Regions from separate parts of the Homo sapiens genome. Here regions 2, 3 and 4 are each linked to region 1. Evidence: fine-mapped expression QTL. A gene starts in region 1. Each other region holds a variant in brackets. All regions are shown on one strand. Distances are between the middles of the regions.

Region 1 (5,155 bases):
TTTCCAAGATAGCCATGCCACCCTCTAACACTAAAAGGGTCTTGGTGACAAGGTTTAGAAATGCCTAGAGGATATGTATGCTTATTTCTCTTCTCTCATTTAACAAATATTCACTTGCCAGGCACTAGGCTCTGAGGAGAGAGTTGAGAATAGATTGACAAAGTCAAGCTGGCCTGTAGTCCCAGCTACTTGGGCGGCTGAGGGGGGAGGATCACGTGAGCCCAGGAGTTCCAGGTTACAGTGAACTATGACTATGCCGCTGCACTCCAGCCTGGGTGACAAAGTGAGAACCTGTCTCTAAAAAAAGAGAGACTGACAAAGTCTTTTGCTCATGGAGTTTATATTCTAGTGGAGCAGAGGGGCTCAGACCACAAACAAATAACTAAATGCACGATGTAATTAATGAATGCTGCTTTGGGCATGTAACAACTACCTCTCTTGTGACCTACCTGGACAGAAGAAAAGACCATTTCCAGCCTATTCTAGTAACCCACTTAAAGGAATACCAACACATTACGGAATGTTAACTGTGGATCCCGAGATGTTGCTTTTGAGTTTGGGGGCCAGAACACACGTGTCCAGATGTCTCCCTGGGCAGACAGACCGGAGAAACGGGCTGGCATGCATAAACATGCCAGTAGCCAGGGAGAACAGCATGCCCCACTAGCTGCTGGTAGCCAGGGCGCTGAGGATTGAAGCCTGGGTACTAGCTGGGCCTTATCAAAGGAGAGCGAAAAATTCCTGAAGATTTGAAAAGGAGAGTCTTTTGCAGAGAAGCAAACATATCACGACTTAAAATTTGATGCTTCAATTTTGCTCTCATTTCTACAGTGGCAGATAACACAAGCCAGGGAATACTCATTTGTACATTTCAGAAACTTGATGTACTAAGGTTCCCACCTGAGATTGTTGTCTATTTTATAGACCAATTCATATGTCTAAAAATCCAACTAGACTATAAAGAGCATAATAACACGCTTGCCATGGTTTTCTCTGCCGACACATTGCTCAGCATACGTCAATGAGAGCTTTGACCAATCAATGTGAATCTCCTTAAGCAAAAGGCCCATCTTTTCCTTTAGAACTAAAGCTGGGGCTGGGCGCAGTGGCTCACGCTTGTAATCCCAGCACTTTGGGAGGCCGAGGCGGGAGGATCACGAGGTCAGGAGATCGAGAACACCTATTAACACGGTGACACCCCGTCTGTACTAAAAATACAAAAAGTTAGCCGGGCGTGGTGGCGGGCGCCTGTAGTCCCAGCTGCTCAGGAGGCTGAGGCAGGAGAATGGCGTGAACCCAGGAGGCGGAGCTTGCAGTGAGCCGAGATGGCGCCACTGCACTTCAGCCTGGGCGACAGAGCGAGACTCCGTCTCAAAAAAAAAAGAACAAAAAAACCCCAAAAAACAAAAAAACTAAAACTGGGTATTATGAAGGAAACTTGAGAAAGAAAAGTGACCAATTTTAGTTGATGCAAGTAATCTCACGTATCCTCTTCTTCCTGCATAGCAAGATACTACAACCCATGACTGTCAAACCTGAGACAGCTGAAGAGCCCAGAAAAAAAGATTAGGGAAGAAAACAGAATTGAAAAATAATTCAGAATGACAGAGGCTATCTGCAGCATTAAGGGCAAAGGCGGGTAAAAGAAGAAAAGGGAGACAGAATAAAAGATAAACCAAAAAATTGAAACAAAATACACGGGAATTCAAACATTTATACCAGAATATAAGGGAATACCCTGGAATCTAAACACCTCTTCAGGCAAGAATGTGTGTCAATACAAATGCCTGGCACATTGTTTTCCTTCCCCCTTTCTTTTTACCCAGTTTACCCAGTTTTAAAAGTGATTTTTTAAAATGCACCTTTAAAAGAACATCTTTTGTTAAGTGACTTAAACTTGATACATTTCTTGGATTACTAAGGAGGTTAAAGTCACATTTGGTGAAAAAGGGGCCTATCTCCTCTTTCCTCACATACGGGTCATCGAATACTTTTAAAAGCATTTTCCACCATGAATGAGGGGAAATGGAAGAAAAGAGGTGGTGACAATTATTTGCATTTTCCAAATGGACGGAATGAGCCTCCGGAGGGTACACGAGGTCACCAGCGTGAGCCCGCGGTGGAGCTGGAGGCGTATTTATAGCTGGCTGACCTCAGTCCTGTTGGGCCCTCGCCGCTCCTTATCTTATGCCGCTGGAATTCGCGGGCTCGCAGGTCACAGGAGCCCGGGCGCGCCGGGCCTGGCGCTCCCGAATCGATGAGGGAAGCCGCTCTCCCCGGCAGATCCTCCCGGCCGGGGAGCCTCCATCACCCTGCCTGCGCCTCGGCACGCTGGCAAGGAGCCCGGGAAGAGACGCCGGGAGCGGTGGGTGGGCGAGAAACAAATGCAATGTGACTTATATTTTTCTTTGTCGCAACTACCACGACCTGGCCATCCCCCACCTTGGTGACTTGGTGCCTTCCCAGCGACCTTATTTCACGCCAGCTGACTGGCGTTCACCGCAGTGTGAGTGTCGGCCGGAGGAGGGGTCCACGCGAAAGAGCCCGCGAGAGTGGGGATATCCGGCCCCGAAGGCCGGAGCGGGCGTCCAGGGCGCCGATGGCCGCAGCGCCCGGCAGCCGTGTCCACGCTCCCCTCCGCCGCGTTCCATCGCGTGCTACCTACGGCGTCTGCGGGAAGCTACCCGGGCGGCAGCTGTGGGGCTGGCTTGTGGGGAGGGGCCGGCGGGCCCGCGCGGAGGAGCAGCCCCGACTCCCGCCCGCACCAGCAGCTCGGCGCCCCCTTGCCGGCGGCTGGCCCTCCTCCCCGGCAACTGGGCGCCGGGCTCCGCGAACTCTTCGGGCGCTTCCGCCGTGCGCTCGGCTCTTTTCGTGTCCGGGGCGGGGCGGGGCAGGCGCCCGTGGTCGGGTGCGCGCGGCGCGGGCGGGGGCCTTCCCAGTGCGCGCGCGCCGTGCAAGGCCCGCGGACGCCCGCCCCTCCCCCAGGCCCCCGCACCCGCGCCGCCCCCTCCCCTCCTGGCAAGAGTCGGCGGCGGTGGCGGCGGCCGCTGCAGAGATTGGAATCCGCCTGCCGGGCTTGGCGAAGGAGAAGGGAGGAGGCAGGAGCGAGGAGGGAGGAGGGCCAAGGGCGGGCAGGAAGGCTTAGGCTCGGCGCGTCCGTCCGCGCGCGGCGAAGATCGCACGGCCCGATCGAGGGGCGACCGGGTCGGGGCCGCTGCACGCCAAGGGCGAAGGCCGATTCGGGCCCCACTTCGCCCCGGCGGCTCGCCGCGCCCACCCGCTCCGCGCCGAGGGCTGGAGGATGCGTTCCCTGGGGTCCGGGTGAGTTGGGAGTGCGCGTGCGGACCGGAGGGGCTGGCCGCAGCGGGGAGGCCAGAGGGGCTCGGGCGAGGCTGCAGAGGCAGCTGGGCGCGCGGTGGCCGGAGCCAGGGGCTGCCCGGCCCGGCCCCGGCAGCTCCGCAGGCCTCGGCGCGCGCTGGGCCGGGACCGCCCAGCCAGAGACCCACGGCACCCCGCGCCGCGTCCCCCGCCGGCCCCTCTTTTGTCTCCCACTCGCGGGTTGCAGGCCGAGTTTGGGGATGCGGAGTGGGCGAAAGTCGCTCCGGGGACGCTTCTGGAATCCTTAAATGGGAAAGGCGCTCACCTCCCCGCCCCGGAGCGGCGAGGCTGATATTTGTGATTTGGCTCCGGACGCTGTGGGGAGGAACAGGGGAGAACAAAATGAGTTTCGGGCGGGGGTCGAGTGAGAGGAGCAGCCGGCCCGCCCCCGAGTCCCCGCGGGAAGGGGCCCTGGCCCCCGAGCTCCCGGAGCTGCTTCACCTGTTGTCCTGCGCGGCCTCCGCTCCGTGGCCTGGTGATTCCGTACTTCAGTTTTGGAAAACTTTCTGCTGGATTGCCTGGACCCTTTTTTCTCTTTCCAGACTCCTAGTGGAAAGATTTGGCAAGGAAAAAAAAATGAGCTTGCGTCAGGGAAGAAAAATAATATGCTGTGTGTTAGGGTCTGGCGTTTGAGCGTGGTACTCTTTCATGCTCTCAGATGTTTTAATTTGGTCAAACTCCTGCAGGTTTTCTCTTTTAAGCGGTTAACAAACTGTTCAGAGTACATAGTATGAACTTGGCACCTGTGTTACGTCATTTAATCCTTACAACGATTCTGGTTTATTGTATTCCTCATTGTTTTAGGGGAAGAAACCGAGTCGCAAAGAGGTTAACTAACTTGTCTAAGGGAGCTGGGATTTGAACCCAGGAACATCGTATTCTGGCAAACGAATTAGGAAGAAAAAAAACCAAAACTGTTTGCAAACACTTTTACGTTTAGGAACATTTTTCAGTTACTCTTACTTGAAATTATCGCTATTTTGTTGCTGGAGTTGAAAACAACTACTTTATTGTATTTACTTGTGAGAGGAGTTAAACTTTGAATTAGAGTGTAACTTAATGCGTCTCATTGTTTTCAGTTGTTGAAATAAAGAATGTGAACCAGAATTATTTAGATTTTTAAATTTGAAGCTAAAATATGGGCAATTCTCTGATCTAGGAATGGGGTGAGTGTATGAAAGGCCGATTGAAATGTAGAATGCGTTTTTAGTAGAACCAGACTCAGTTCTTGTTTAATTTTTCCTCCATTTTCCGTGGAGCCCACTTTAAACTTTTTCTACTTTCTTCACTTCTCCCCACCCTTTACAGAAGAGGTTGAGGCACTTAGCAGGAGCTCCTTCATTAAATTCCTTCTGTTACTGGCTTCTTAACCTTCCGTCAAAGAGGGAGAATTTTTTTTTTTTTTTTTGTCTTTCTTATTAGTTAACACCTTGGGGTTTTTTTCCTTTCCTTCTAATTTTCCTGCTTAGTGGAGCGTGAGTTATTTTCTCTGTCGTATTTGGGTTCTTTAAAGTACAAATGTTCTTAAGATTTTTTCAGTTTACAAAAACCTTTTCTTAAGTCTGCTACTCCTTCAAGCTGTCTTGTTGCTGCTTTTCCTTTTCAAATCTTATTAACATTTTAAAAAGCTTGTTCGTAATAAAAGTAACACATGGTTGTTAATTGCGAACTAGCGCAACATTGAAATTAAAATTTAGTCATTCACAATCCATCTCTAGAGATTGCCAAGTGTAGTCTGCTTTTCCTGCCTTTGCCTGGTTGGTGGCTAGCCACTCAT
Region 2 (5,206 bases), 170 kb after region 1:
TTATTTATATTTTGTGTATAATGTGCTTTATTTGCAAATCACCCACTCCTTTACAACCATACTTTATATATGTACATACATTCATACTGTAGAAACCAGCTCATGTGTACCTCATATCCCATCCTTAAGAGAAGAAATGTTATAAAGTAGAACTAAATATAAATTTTCAGAATTAATGCATTCAAAGTAATATATCAAATCCAGGACTTTGTTAACTTCAGGTAAAAACTTCATTAGGGTAATATCATCTCAATTTTTTCAAATGAAAGGATTCTCTAATTAGAAATTTATATGTCAGAGCTGTTATAAATTTATCAACTGTCAAATATGTTCTGGACAGCTAAATCATTTGAGATTTTTGGTTTTTTGATTTCTATTCCCTAACTTGTGAAGACAATGAAAAATCAGGCAGAAATATTTAGTATCTAGTCAGTATCTGTAGCTACACTGTATAACTGTTCTTCAATAAAATGGTTCATATTTTATAGATGCCTTGTTATCTCAAGAAATCTGATTTACATAAACTTATACTTCTTTAATGCTTTTTAAATATTTATTCTGAGCAAACAATTCATGAGTACATCAAGTGAGATAGTTTTATTTGATTATAACATAAAATAAATGTGATTATATCACATCATCATCAAAAAGGTTTAAATTAAATGGGAGGAAATCAGCATATGTCCACCCATTACCAAAATTTGACTATCATTTAAGGTTAAAACTTACAAATTTGTCTGCACATCAAATTTCACAAATTTGAAAATTGCCTTAACCATTTTGATTAATAAGTTTCATCTGCCATAATTAAAGTCTGAAGTGTTCATCAAGATAAGTAAATTTGCATATGGATAATACCCAATAACTTGTTTTTTCAGAATTTTTCACCATATGTATACTGAGAAATACAAATATTTTAATCTGCGTTGCCGTATGATATGATTGCACTTAGAACACCCAATTTACTTAAATCTTGGTTTACTTTTGACTTGATACCATAATCTTTAAAATCATTTGTCATCTTTTTTTTTTTTTTTTTGAGACGGAGTCTCGCTCTGTCGCCCAGGCTGGACTGCGGACTGCAGTGGCGCAATCTCGGCTCACTGCAAGCTCCGCTTCCCGGGTTCACGCCATTCTCCTGCCTCAGCCTCCCGAGTAGCTGGGACTACAGGCGCCCGCCACCGCGCCCGGCTAATTTTTTGTATTTTTAGTAGAGACGGGGTTTCACCTTGTTAGCCAGGATGGTCTCAATCTCCTGACCTCATGATCCACCTGCCTCGGCCTCCCAAAGTTCATTTGTCATCTTAATAAAAATATAAAGACAGGCAAAGTTTATTGGAAATGTTCAAATGGTGTGTGGAAGCAAAAAATTACAGCCAGTATATGAGACCACTATTATGGTTTTTTAAAATTAACTTGGTCTAGTAAAAGTGATATCAAGAGTTAATCTTAGAAACTTGCTCAGTAAAAACATTTTCTAGTATAACATGTTCTTTAAAAAGCAAATGCTGCCGTCTTTGGAATCTTAATCTAAAAATGTGGCCGGGCGCGGTGGCTCACGCCTGTAATCCCAACACTTTGGGAGGCTGAGGCGGGTGGATCACAAGGTCAGGAGTTCAAGACCAGCCTGGCCAACATGGTGAAACCCCATCTCTACTAAAAATAAAAAACTCAGCCAGGCGTGGTGGCGGGTGCCTGTAATCCCAGCTACTCGGGAGGCTGAAGCAGGAGAATTGCTTAAAATCAGAAGGTGGAGGTTGCAGTGAGCTGAGATCGTGTCACTGCACTCCAGCCTGGGCAAAAGAGCGAAACTCCATCTCAAATAAACAAACAAATAAATAACAAAAAACAAAAATGTTGCATTAAACTTAGTTCTTGTCTCTCCTTTCCACTCTTATTCTTAAATCTGAAGCTCATCGACTAAGTGAAATATTTAAAGAATATGATAGGCCAGCAAGAAGAAGTATTATGTAGTACCATAGTTAGTAAATTCGTAAAACCTTGGAAGCCATTATTTGGTCCCACTTGCAATTTAGTGTTTTTGAAGTGTGTAGCTTCATTCAGATAGCTCTTTAAATAATTAAAATATAAAAGCAAACAACCCAAACTACCTGACTATAAACAGGAAAAGTTAACCCTCAAAGAGAGTTCTTGTGAATTCTCTTTATGCTGGCAAATAGCTCTAGGATTAAAGGCACATTAGGGTTTCCTTCAGTTTGTTTATTCTAAGCTTTTACTGTGCTTTTTACTGAACAAGTTTCTGATGTATAAAACTTGCATCTGATTTCTTTGGAAATATTTTCACAAAAGTTATTTTAATCAGTATTTTTACATTGCCTTTCCAGTGTCCAGAAGTGTTTCTAAACTTAGAAAGTGACCTATAGTTTTTTAAAATTATGTTTTCCTAGAACGTGCCAAATTTTGATTTACTCTAACAATCAGTACTTTTCTTCAGATGCTTTGTTCTGTTTAGAACAAAAATGCACTATAGTTTTTAAAGAATCATGCATCTTTGGGTTGGCCCAGGATCAAATTTGATATTGAATAATTTATTCCAGGGCAGCTTTCATAAACATACTTCATAGATGTTGTTTTGAAATGTTTCTAAATATCTAAAATCATTTCAACAGCAGAAATGATTTTTATTTTAACAAAAGATTATGATAGCCCTTGTAGTGTTTAAAAGTGGTCATATTTATTACTGACTTTGAGTCAGGTGTTAAAATAGCAGTGCCACAGCTCGTCTCTTGCCTTAGTGTGCTGCTGTGAGAGTCACAGTGGAAACTGCAGGGAGGAGGTGTGTTCCTAAGAACCAAAATCCAGCACAGCATCCTGTGAAGCCACGTGTAATGATGGTCCCATAAGGAAAGTATGTGAATATGGCTCTTGTAAAGGATTAACTATTGTAATTTTAGCTTATGCTCTGTATTCTGTTTTCTATGGAATTATTTAAGCCCTTTTAGTGACCTTTGTCCTGGCCCATTTAAAAACTAAAATGTAGTATATATTGTATAAAATGGAAATATCATTATTGCTTCATTAGGGGAAACTGTACATAGGCATTGAAAGAAGGGTAAAAGCAAGCAGTTTTATCAGGCA[G/A]TTGTAAAACACCAAAAATATAGATTCGTCTTTGACGTGTAACACACTAAATGTATTTTGTACAGCATCTGGTTTAAAAGGTGCCTTAAGAGTTTACCATTACTTGCTTTGTTCTATATACAGATTATGTCCAATGTATCATTTTGAAGTAAATAACCTTATTTTAGTATACTTTAGTGATGTGTTTTGTGATGCTACACTCAGACGGTATTGTGCATCAGAAGTCATCTGTTGAGATTTTTGTAATGATTAAGTTAGTGTATATACATATGTTCCTGAGATGTACACTTCAACTACCAGAAACCCAGTATGGAGCACAGGTAGGTACACGCTTGCCCTGTGGAGATAGAGAACTTCTAAACCTATCACGGTGCAGGGGTTTTTCCTTTAAAAAACAAGACAAAACATTGTTTTCTTTTTCCTTTTTTTTTTTTTTTTTTTGAGACGGAGTTTTGCTCTTGTTGCCCAGGCTGGAGTGCAATGGCACGATCTCAGCTCACTGCAACCTTTGCCTCCTGGGTTCAAGCAATTCTCCTGCCTCAGCCTCCCGAATAGCTGGAACTACAGGTGTTTGCCACCATGCCTGGCTAATTTTTTGTATTTTTAATAGAGACAGGGTTTCACCATGTTGGCCAGGCTGGTCTCGAACTCCTGACCTCAGGTGGCCCACTTGCCTTGGCCTCCCAAAGTGCTGAGCTTACAGGCATGAGCCACCATGCCTGGCCAAAACATTGTTTTCTGATTATGGAAATGTACTCATGGCAGAAAATTTGGGAAACAACAGCAAATAATAAAGCAAATAAAAATCACTCAAAATTCTATTGCCAGACATTATCACTATATACATTTGAGTGTTTCTTTTCAATCTTTTTTTTTGAGAGAGTCTTGCTCTGTCACTCAGGGTGGAGTGCAGTAGCGCGATCTCGGCTCAGTGCAACCTCTGCCCCCTGGGTTCAAGTGATTCTCCTGCCTCAGCCTCCCAAGTAGCCGGGATTACAGGTGTGCACCACCACGCCCGGCTAATTTTTGTATTTTAGTAGAGATGCGGTTTCACCATGTTGGCCCAGGCTGGTCTCGAACTCCTGACCTCAAGTGATCTGCCTACCTCAGCCTCCCAAAGTGCTGGGATTACAGGAGTGAGCCACTGCACCCGGCCTTATTCTTTTTTATGTTGCATTTTTTGTAATATTAGGATCCTAGTATGCCATTAAATAGCCATTGAGAACTTTTTTTTTAATGACTGCACAATATTTGACTAAGAAGATGGAGTAATTTCTGTGCTCAATCCCCTATTGAATATTTGGATTATTTTCATTGTTTTGAAAAATAGATATTAAGCATCCTTATACATAAATCTTTATTTTCTTATATTACATTTCTGAAAATGAGACTAGTGGATATGAACTTTTAAAAGATCCTTTAAGATGGAAAAACTAAGGTTCTTGGAAAACATTGCCATATTGCTACTCACAAAGCTTTTCATTTTCATTCCTGCTAGCAGTTCATGAGCTTAGAGCGATGGGATGCATTTACCTGGCCTTAAGATGCTCCTGCTGCAATGGGAAGTGAAGCCTTGGATAGCTTTCCTCCTCCTGTGCAATACTTTCTTGTCATTTTCCCACCTGCACTGAGTCCCACCGCCAGTCAGGGCTGTTTTCAGGTGTATGTGAATTCATCCCAGCAGTGTGCCTTCTGCTGCCTTTTCCTAGGGAACTGAACATGTTAAATCACAGACGCGATGTGGCACTGATTATTGTTCCTCAAAAGAAATGCGTGTCTGAAGATAGCCTCTTACAGATTCCTCACGGGAGTCTCTGTTCAGTGTCATTGTAAGTTTCTCAGAATAATCGCAGGCGCTCTGATGCAGCCTGGTAAAGAAGACTCAGTGATTTCTGGGAACTGCAAATGCTTGCCAGCTTTCCTTCTGTCTGTGGAAACACTGAATAAATGTATTCATTTCTCCTTTCCAGCAATCTGTTAGTCTCACTGCTCCATTCCAAGGTTTCTTTAATATTATTAACAGAGCAGACATTAAGAAACAGAATTGTCTAATCCTTGTTCTTCCAAAATAGGTTTAATCCTTGTAGATAGTTTCAAGCAGACAGTA
Region 3 (5,206 bases), 39 kb after region 1:
GTGCTGGGATTACAGGCATGAGCCAGCATGCCTGGCCTACTGTCAGATCTTTAATGTTTGCCATTTAAATGAATTGCATACTGCTAAAAATTATAATGGTAATTGAATTCAAAATAATTTTTTAAACACTTAGAAGCTTCTTTATGGTCAGGAAATTTAAAATGTTTTTCATTTAAACATCAGACAGGCTGGGTGCAGTGGCTCAAACCTGTAATCCCATCACTTTGGGAGGCCAAGGCAGGAGGATTGCTTGAGTCCAGGAGTTTGAAACCAACCAGGGCAACATAGGGAGAATCTGTCTCTATAAAACAAACAAACAAACAGAACTTCAGACATGTATGACTGAGTGACTAATAAGACTTCCAAGCATTAGCAATTACTATATGCAGGGCAAATGTACTGGAAATATGAATTCAAGGAGGAAAATATGCTGTGAAAATTTCACTTTAAAATGGATCATGATGGGTATCAGATCACAATTGTATTTGGATTCTGTTGAAGAGATTTAAGGTTGATATTACAGTGACCTTGCTAAATTATATTGCTGTTCTGTGCTCTGTTTCCCTATATATAAATGGGATAATAATAGCACCTATATCAAGGAGTAATTTATTATTATGTCTAGTGCAGCTTCTTGGCAAATACTCTGTTCAGTGATTCACATTCTGTTTAATAGCCCACTGCTTTGTTTCTTTCTGGTAAGTCTTCTGCCTTAATGCAGTCTTCTCTAGCTACTATGTGTCCTTTTTTCATCCTCCTGATCTATACCCCCCCCCACCCCCCGCCACCCCACACACACATGGTGGTGTGGACAAGGCAAAAAAGAAAGTTAGCTGGATTTATGTTTCGGAATTTCAGGGCTTTGTATTTACAGTTGACTTGTTAGGAGAAGAGGAAGAAGAATTAAAAAGTATAGCATTGGGCCAGAATATCATTAAGCAGTAAGATCACATTGAGTTGTATAGGGAAGGGTACCTGTATTTTTATTTCATCTGTACTGGAGACAGGATTTCTGATGACACGCTTGCTCACTGACAGTTTTTTTTTTTTTTTGAGATGGAGTTTCGCTGTTGTTGCCCAGGCTGGAGTGCAATGGCGTGATCTCGGCTCTCTGCAACCTCTGCCTCCCGGATTCAAGCGATTCTCCTGTCTCAGCCTCCCGAGTAGCTGGGATTACAGGTGCATGCCACCACGCCTAGCTAATTTTTGTATTTTTAGTAGAGACAGGGTTTCATCATATTGATCAGGCTGGTCTCAGGTGATCTGCCTGCCTCGGCCTCCCAAAGTGCTGGGATTACAGGTGAGCCACTGCGCCAGGCCTGACAGATAGTTTTTTTAGATGGTGTAAGACAGTGTCAATTATGTAGTGTAGTTGGTATATTTTCTGTTGTTACTGTAACAAATTACCATACTTTTAGTGGTTTATAGAGCACAAATTTATTATCTTATGGTTCTGCAGGTCAGAAGTCCAACACAGGTCTCACTAGGCTAAGATGCAGGTGTCTACAGGGCCGTGTTCCTTTCGGGAAGTTCTAAGGAAGTATGGATTCTGTGCCTCTTACAGCCTCTAGAGGCTGGCTGCATTCCTGGATCAGGCTCCCCTTCCTGTTCACCTTCACAGTCAGCAAGGTGACATGGCTCTGACCTCCTGTCATCTCTTTCCCACCGTACTTGGGAGAAGTTCTCTGCTTTTAAGGACCATGTGAGTAGATTGGTCCCAACAAGCTCATCCAGGATAATCGCCCCATCTCAGGTTTTGGACCCTTAGTCACACATCTGCAAAGTCCCTTTTGCCATTTAAATAACATATTCATAGGTTACAGGGATTAGGATGTGAATGTCTGCAGGGGCCATTATCCTGCTACCACAGTTGGTTTTTAGTCAGCTACATAATTTTGAACTGTTAATTTTATCTATTTTTTTTTTATGACAGTTGTGGTTAGAGGTGAGGCTTGGATTGGTCCTGGCCTGAATCTTGTTCTGCTGTGTAGCAGCACTGTGACGTTAGGCAAGTTTCTTCTCTGTACTTGTTTCTTCTTTGGTGAAATCAAGATAGTAATGCTTGTCTGTATGTACTGAAATAAAGTAATAGTTTAGGGTTCTAGATGGGAGGCAAGAGATTTCTACCAATCTTTTTGTGTCTGTCTCAAATAAGCAAATATGTGATCACCTAACTCACAAGGTTGTTGTGAAGATCAAATTAAGTCATCAAGTTAGAGTGCCTTTTGAAATGTATAAAAAGTATATAACATTTTGTTGGTATTAATTTTAGAATGGCTTTTAAGATTTTTGTCAAAGGTGAGAACGTTCAGTACATTCTTTGATACCTGCCTAGCAACTATTTTTAGGTTTCTATTCCTTTCCAGATTTTCAGATTCACATATTTCCTTTATTAAATTATGGTAAATGAAAAGATAATATGAGAATTAAAAGTAATGACTTCTGTGATTCGTATAGTCACTAGGATTTAAAATTCAAATTTATCTATATCTATATCTATAGATATAGATATATAGATATAGATATAGTTTTTTTTTTTTAGATAGAGAGTTTCGCTCTTGTTTCCCAGGATGGAGTGCAATGGTGCCATCTTGACTCACCGCACACTCCACCTCCTTGGTTCAAGCAGTTCTCCTGCCTCAGCCTCCCGAGTAGCTGGGATTACAGGCATGCACCACCACAACTAGCTAATTTTGTATTTTTAGTAGAGATGGGGTTTCTCCATGTTGGTCAGGCTGGTCTTGAACTCCCGACCTCAGGTGATCTGCCTGCTTCTGCCTCCCAAAGTGCTGGGATTATAGGGGTGAGCCACCACTCCTGGCCTATCTAGATAATTTTTAATCTTTATTTTTTTTTTTCTGTAGACTTATTTGGAGCTATACTATATGTGTTGTAGAAGCAAAATAAATACTAAGTCTACCTTGCATTAGTAAGACTGATTTTTCTTAAATCCTGAGCTACATTTAAAATCTTGGTTAGTAGACATTTTACTCAGATAGTGATTCATTTATAATTGGCTTGTCTAAGTACTCAGTGTTTGACAAAAATATCACTATGTTAAGCAAAAACCATATTTAAAAAGTGATTTGTTTTTTTTTTTTC[C/T]TAACGCTGTAACAGTGAATAGATCTTTTTCCCCTAAGCAGCACAAAGATGCCATTTTGGGAGGTTAAATTACTTTCTAAAAGTTGCTGTGAAGGAGAGAAGGAAAAGAGATCAGGTTACACATTCTTTGTTCCTGAGCCTACCACTGCACACGTTCAGAGAAGCAATAGTGAGGCTAGAGTATGCATTTGCCACTATGTCTTCAACCCTTCCCCATAGTAGGGAGGGAGGGAATTAGGCAGTTTTCCTAACAGGGCCCCGAAGAGTACCATTTTAACTTAAATACTCTTAAAAGTTGCTACTTATTTTTTTTAAGGCTTTCTTTACTTTTTTATAATTTAGCATTTCAAGTAATCCAAATAGTTATTTCTTTGTATATTCAGAGGTATTTAAAAATATTTTCTTTGAGAGCTTAAAGGTTATAGTTTAATAATGCAGTTAAACATCAATTTATCTCAAATTGATATTGAGTTAAATTTAAAGAGTATTTTAAATTATATTTTGAGGGGAAAAAAATAACTTTCTTGGCACAAAATGGCCATGAATTAGATTGTGTGTTTCAGAAAGGTAGTGGTAAAAAGTCCCCAAAGCAGTTACAATATTTCTTTTGTTCTGTTTCCTTGCTACTCTTAGATAAATGAAGAGTTTGAAAAGAATTTTCACATAAAAACGTCATAAAATCCCAGTGCCATATTCTGAATATTAATTTGACTGTTTTATGTCGTATTTTTTTCCCAGTTGGTTTTAGTTAGAATATATGCTTTTTTTTAAGCCTTTAAGGAATTAAACAATTTTGGTTATTAAAGTTTAAATGTATTTCATAAATATGTATTTATAAATATGTGACTGGTCCCTTTTCTGAGGGGTTAGGAAGTTTAAGCATTATTTGTAAGCTATTTGTAAATCCCTGTCAAACATTATTTGTCCATTAAGAAATACTATTTTTTTCTTCACTTTTAGGTCATTTTAAGTATTAATAATGTTCATCAATTTACTTACTACCCTTCTGAAGAAAGTCACTATAATTAGTAATCAGAATTATATCACATAAATTTAGGCACATTTATTTATTTATTTATTTATTTATTTATTTATTTATTTTTAGTATTTTGAGAGTAGGTGCTGTATTTTCTTTTCTTTCCTTGTTTCTTCTTTTTTGTTTTTTGAGACAGAATCTCTCTCTGTTGCCCAGGCTGGAGTACAGTGGCATGATCTCAGTTCACTGCAACTTCCCCCTCCTAGGCTCTAGCAGTGCTTCCACCTCAGCCTCCCAAGTAGCTGGGACCAGCTCACGCTACCACTCCAGCTAATTTTTGTATTTTTTGTAGAGACAGGGTTTTGCCATGTCACCGAGACTGAGTTACTGTATTTTCTTAGCAGAATATTGTCCCAGTGAGCTTTTTCCAAAAGAGAAAAGGTACAGCCAATAAAAGTTTGTGGTTGGGTATTGGGAGTTGGTGTTGTTCTGTTTTGTCCTGTTCATAAAAGTTTTATTCTCTTTAGCTCTCATGCTTTAGTTCTAATTTATTCACAGATTTTTGCCCAGTAACTTGATTTTATACTTGGCTTTCTATATTGTGGCTCCAATTTTTCTTCCCAGTTTATACTCTTATTTTTCCTTTCTTTTTCTTTTCTTTTCTTTTTTTTTTTTTTTTGAGACAGTCTTGCTCTGTCGCCCAGGCTGGAGTGCAGTGGCGCGATCTCTGCTCACTGCAGCCTCCGCCTCCCAAGTTCAAGCAATTCTCCTGCCTCAGCCTCCAGAGCAGCTGGGATTACAGGCGCCTGCCACCAAGCCCGGCTAATTTTTTTTTTTTTTTTTGAGACGGAGTCTTGCTCTGTTGTCTGGGCTGGAGTGTAGTGGCCCAATCTCGGTTCACTGCAACCTCCACCTCCTGGGTTCAAGTGATTCTCCTGCCTCAGCCTCCTGAGTAGCTGGGATTACAGGCGCCCACCACTATGTCCAGCTAATTTTTTGTATTTTTAGTAGAGATGGGGTTTCGCAGTGTTGGTTGGGCTGGTCTTGGAACTCCTGGCCTCGTGATTCGCCCACTTCGGCCTCCCTGAGTGTTGGGATTACAGGCATGAACTACTGCGCCCAGCCAAT
Region 4 (5,206 bases), 160 kb after region 1:
GTAATCCCAGCTGCTCGGGAGGCTGAGGCAGGAAATTGTTTTAACTGGGGAGGCAGAAGTTGCAGTGAGCTGAGATTGGCCGCCGCACTCCAGCCTGAGCAACGGAGCGAGACTCTGTCTCAAAAAAACAGAACAAAATTTACAAAAGGATTCTATAATAAATGATACATAAAGTCACTTTAGCTTTGCACTAAATCTAGTCCATTTTAGAAGCATTTCCAACTTGGAGCATAATGTTCTTTTTAATTTAGAATGATCACTAATGCTTCTGAAAATGAAAGATAACAATCCATGTACATCTTTTATTTAACAAATATTAAAGTACTTCTGATATTGTCCCAAATAAATACTTATATTCTGTGAGCAGGGGATGGAATTCAAGCAAATATATATGTAAATAAGAATAAAGTTATGATTGTGTTAAGCGCAGCAACTGAGAGGTTTTGTGTGCTATGAAGGTGTTTAAGTGAGAAAATAGCACTCTAAGTAAAGGGAACTGGATATTCAAAAAAACCCAGCGACAGGAATAAGCTTGAGTGAATTCTAAAAGTTGAGATAAGTCAAACGAGGTTTGTGGGTGGGTGGTCAAAGCAAATAATGGGACCAGGCCAGATCAGGCAGGGTCTTATAGATGGGATTTTTAAGATCTTTAACTGTTATTTGGACTTTGCTGCATAATAAACCACCCCAAAACTTAGTGATGTGAAGCAACAAACATTATTTCTCATTCTGTGAGTCTGTGGGGCAGTTCATTTGTTGGACTTGCTTAGCTAGAGCTAGGTGGTGTAGTTCACACCCTTGGCCGACAGTTCATGCTGCCATTATTTTTTGGTCACAGGGTTCCCAAAGCAGCAGGAAGGGGGCAAGCCCCAGTCCACAAACATTTGTCAGGTCTTTGCTTGCATCACGTTCGCTGTTGTTCTTTTATCCAAAGCAAGTCATGTGGCCTAAGCCCTGAGTCTGTGGACCAAGACTACCCACGACTGTGTGCACTGGGAGGGTAATTATTATGACCATTTTTGCAAACAGCCAGCCACTTGAATAACCTGTTTATGATTTCAGAATACATTGTACATTGTTTCATACTTTAAAGTACATTATGGCCGGGCATGGTGGCTCACGCCTGTAATCCCAGCATTATGGGAGGCCGGGGGTGGGGTGGATCACCTGAGGTCAGGAGTTCAAGACCAGCCTGGTCAACGTGGCTAAACCCCATCTCTACTAAAAATACAAAAAAATTAGCTGGGCATGGTGGCGGGTGTCTGTAATCCCAGCTACTTGGGAGGCTGAGGCAGGAGAATCACTTGAATCTAAAAGGTGAAGGTTGCAGTGAGCCGAGATCGCGCCACTGCACTCCATCCTGGGTGACAGAGCGAGACTCCATCTCAAAAAAAAAAAAGTACATTATAAGTTTTTAACTGGAGTTGGTTGGGTACACCATGCTTTTTGATGAGATGGACTACCCCTTTGCCAGTCTTAATGGGTTTCTTTCATCAAGAGCTCAAACCTTTTACTTTTTTCTATAAAGGTTCAGCGAACTATTGCCAAACAGATTCAGATGGTCCGGCAAGTTGGTAAAGGCCGATATGGAGAAGTATGGATGGGCAAATGGCGTGGCGAAAAAGTGGCGGTGAAAGTATTCTTTACCACTGAAGAAGCCAGCTGGTTTCGAGAAACAGAAATCTACCAAACTGTGCTAATGCGCCATGAAAACATACTTGGTGGGTACACACTGATTCAGTCAATTTCATTTTTGACAAGGCTAGTGAGGTACAGGTGGAAGCCTCCATATGTGCTTTGAAAATGTGTGAGTTCAACTATATACATTTGGCTAAAGGAAACCTAGTAGAATACACGGTTTGAATAAAACATAGTCCGGAATGCCAACCAAGATCTTTCTTTACTAACCAGCTGAAGAAACAGCAGTGAGTTTCAAATGGAAAATAATACTAGTTTATTGGACTTACTCCCATAGTAATGAAAACCCAGTCTTTTATAGATAACTTAAGCAGTGATTTAGGGTAACATTAACATATGTGCCTTTTCCCTTTCATAAGCTCAACAGCCCAACATGCAGTTTCATTGTACGTTCTGTGTTTAATGTGTGTTTCCCCCCATCTCCACATTTACACAATAGCAAAGTAATTTAGGTGTGAGCTGGTCAGTCAGGTACATAAGCCGATCTGGCTATCCTGAGTTTTCTTTTCCCTTCACCTCTTGTTTTCCTCCCTTTAATTTGGAGAGCCCATAGCATGTTGCCAAGCAGGCAATTGTATTAGTTTCCTAGGGCTGCTGTATCAATTACCACAAACTGGGTGGCTTCAACCTCCAAAACGTATTCACTCAGTTTTCGAGGCTAGAAGTTTAAAACCAAGGTGTTGGCAGAGCTGTTGTGTCTCTGAATACTCTAGAGGAGGAGCCTTCCTTGCCTCCTCTGGCTACTGGTTGGTGGCCAGGAATTTTTGGTGTTCCTTGGCTTAGTATAGACAACACTCTAGTCTCCATTTCTGTCATCAGGTGGCCTTCTCCCTGGGTGCCTGGGTCCACATTTCCACCTTACAACATCACCAGCCATTGAATTCGGGCCCACGCTAATCCTGTATGAGTCATCTTAACTTGATTACATCTGCAAAGACCCTCTTTCCAAATAAGGTCACGTTTATAGATGACATGGATTTTAGACATGAATTTTGTCGGGGAGCACTGTTCAGCTCAGTACATAGCACTCACTGACCTTTTTCTGGAGGGAAGAGGGTAGGAGAGAAAGGAAAAGAGCAGGACTGTGGGCCTGGCAGTCAACGAGCCAGACTGAAAAGGCAGCTGTGATGAGTCACTGATGGGCAAATGGGAGTTGGCTTAATTAGGAGCTAACTCTTAGTTGAACATTCTTAATTTTATAAAAGTGTCCACTTTTTGCTTTGAAATTGAGAGCCTTTTCTACTAGAGAATCATGTAGGTTGATAATATTCTCCAGGTTATTTGTATAATATGTCATCTTTTTCTTTTCTTTCCTTTTCTTTTCTTTTTTTTTTTTTTGAGACGGAGTCTCATTCTGTCGCTC[A/G]GGCTGGAGTGCAGTGGCGCCATCTTGGCTCACTGCAACCTCTGCCGCCAGGTTCAAGTGATTCTCTTGCCTCAGCCTCCAGAGTAGCCGGGACCACAGGCACTTGCCACCATGCCCAACTAATTTTTGTATTTTTAGTAGAGACGGGGTTTCGCCCTGTTGGCCAGGCTGGTCTCGAGCTCCTGACCTCAAGTGATCCTCCTGCCTTGGCCTCCCAAAGTGATACAGGTGTGAGCCACCACACCCAGCATATATGATCTTTTTCTTAATCCTATTCACTTTCATGATTATTAAGATTATTATAAATTTATTGTAGAAGTACAGATATATGTGTAAATGTAGAAATATAATTTTTAGTAACACATTCACGACTTGGTGTCAGGCGAATTAAAGTTTCACTATCTGCACATGATACCTAAGTTTTTCTCAGTATCCAGAATGAGCATTACTTCTCCCTAGCCTATCTCTGATGATAACTAACCTTTTAAACTCATCAACTGGACAGGTTTCATAGCGGCAGACATTAAAGGTACAGGTTCCTGGACTCAGCTCTATTTGATTACTGATTACCATGAAAATGGATCTCTCTATGACTTCCTGAAATGTGCTACACTGGACACCAGAGCCCTGCTTAAATTGGCTTATTCAGCTGCCTGTGGTCTGTGCCACCTGCACACAGAAATTTATGGCACCCAAGGAAAGCCCGCAATTGCTCATCGAGACCTAAAGAGCAAAAACATCCTCATCAAGAAAAATGGGAGTTGCTGCATTGCTGACCTGGGCCTTGCTGTTAAATTCAACAGGTGAGTGGTTCTTTGCCCCACTGTTTTGAAATTATTTTAATTTCCAAAAGATATTTCCCTATTTGTATTCAAGATAATGGAATTCTAAAAATGTGCATATGCTTGTTTTTAGTTACATAAATGTATAGTTGGGGGGGATTTTGTTCTTTTTACAAAAATTGTGTCCTACTTCTCCTATACATAATTCTTGATATATATATATTTTTTTGGTGTTTTTTTTTGTTTGTTTTTTGTTTTTTGTTTTTTGTTTTTTTTAAAGACAGTGTCTCACTCAGTTGCCCAGGCTGGAATATAGTAGTGTGATCTTAGCTCACTGCAACCTCGACCTCATGGGCTCAAGCAATCCTCCCACCTCAGCCTCCTGAGTAGCTGGGACTACAGGCATGCACTGCCACACCTAGCTAATGTTTTTATTTTTTGCGGAGATGGGGTCTCACTGTGTTGCCTAGGCTGGTCTCAAACTCCTAGGCTCAGCTGATCCTCCCAAAGTGCTGGGATTACAGGTGTGTGCCATATAGTCTTAGCCATCCTTCCATTTCAGCTGATGTAAATCTACTTCATTCTTTTTAACAGATGCAGAGTTTTCCATATGTGGAGGTACTGTAGTTTATTCTTAAGACCCAACTGATGAACATTAAAGGTGTCTTCAGTTGATTATGAAAAGGTTTTTTAATGAACATTGTTGTATTTTAACCATATATTATATATTTGATCCTTGTGCACTTGTACAAGCATTTCTTCATGATGGATTCCTAGAGAAGGGCCTGCTGAGGCAGTGAGTTTATACATATTAAACTATGGTATGTTGCATATTATTTCTTTCAGCAGTGTGCCTCAGTTTACACACCCGTAAGCAGTAGAGATAAGGATGTCATTTTTCTGTCACCACTTGATAGTGTCAGTATTTTAAAACAAATGCAAGTGTTAGAAATTACAAATTTTTAGGAAACCTTTGAAACCATTTTAATCTTGTAATTCTAGAATGGAGTGGCTGCTTTACATTTCAGAATTCATTTTAGGCTGTAATATAAAAGTACCAGTCTTTAAAACAACTGTAAGAGACATTTAAATCTGTTACAGTGTTCTGAGTCAGTGTAGTATTTGTTGGCTCAGATATTTATCAGATGCTATAGGAAAATACAACGCATTATATTGATCACTGCTTTAGAGTAATTATTACTAATTGTCAGTATGATCATGTAAACATTGCTAACAACAGAACTCTGTTGATGGGACCCATAAAGAAGAAAATGTAATCCTATGTCACAAAGCCTTAGTGTATCATATGAGAGTGGTAAAAGCAAGCGATTCCTCTTGTATTTTCATATTCACCACTTCTCAG

Direction of the effects. Alleles are on the strand shown, and positions count from the first base shown. SD is a standard deviation of normalised expression in the study named. Not every link is listed here.
With allele C in place of T in region 3, the expression in visceral fat of the gene that starts at base 3,021 in region 1 is higher (small effect, 0.35 SD a copy in GTEx).

The links.
Region 2: its variant is fine-mapped to the expression of BMPR1A in whole blood (TOPMed, PIP above 0.99). The same link has a PIP of 0.9 or more in nasal epithelium.
Region 3: its variant is fine-mapped to the expression of BMPR1A in visceral fat (GTEx, PIP 0.96).
Region 4: its variant is fine-mapped to the expression of BMPR1A in lung (TOPMed, PIP 0.92).

What each region holds. Positions count from the first base shown.
Region 1 is chr10:86,753,599-86,758,753 of GRCh38, forward strand. It overlaps BMPR1A (bone morphogenetic protein receptor type 1A), which reads left to right and starts at 3,021. Exons shown (of 13, transcript NM_004329.3): 1 at 3,021-3,321. RefSeq lists a silencer at 2,534-3,503.
Region 2 is chr10:86,924,700-86,929,905 of GRCh38, forward strand. BMPR1A (bone morphogenetic protein receptor type 1A) reads left to right here. Exons shown (of 13, transcript NM_004329.3): 13 at 1-3,270. Among named protein-coding and RNA genes, the nearest start is that of MMRN2, 30 kb to the right of the region's middle. The variant G/A (reference allele first, on the strand shown) is at 3,100.
Region 3 is chr10:86,792,328-86,797,533 of GRCh38, forward strand. All of the region lies in intron 1 of BMPR1A (bone morphogenetic protein receptor type 1A), which reads left to right. Among named protein-coding and RNA genes, the nearest start is that of BMPR1A, 38 kb to the left of the region's middle. RefSeq lists an enhancer at 690-1,416. The variant C/T (reference allele first, on the strand shown) is at 3,103.
Region 4 is chr10:86,915,606-86,920,811 of GRCh38, forward strand. BMPR1A (bone morphogenetic protein receptor type 1A) reads left to right here. Exons shown (of 13, transcript NM_004329.3): 9 at 1,529-1,721; 10 at 3,567-3,864. Among named protein-coding and RNA genes, the nearest start is that of MMRN2, 39 kb to the right of the region's middle. The variant A/G (reference allele first, on the strand shown) is at 3,062.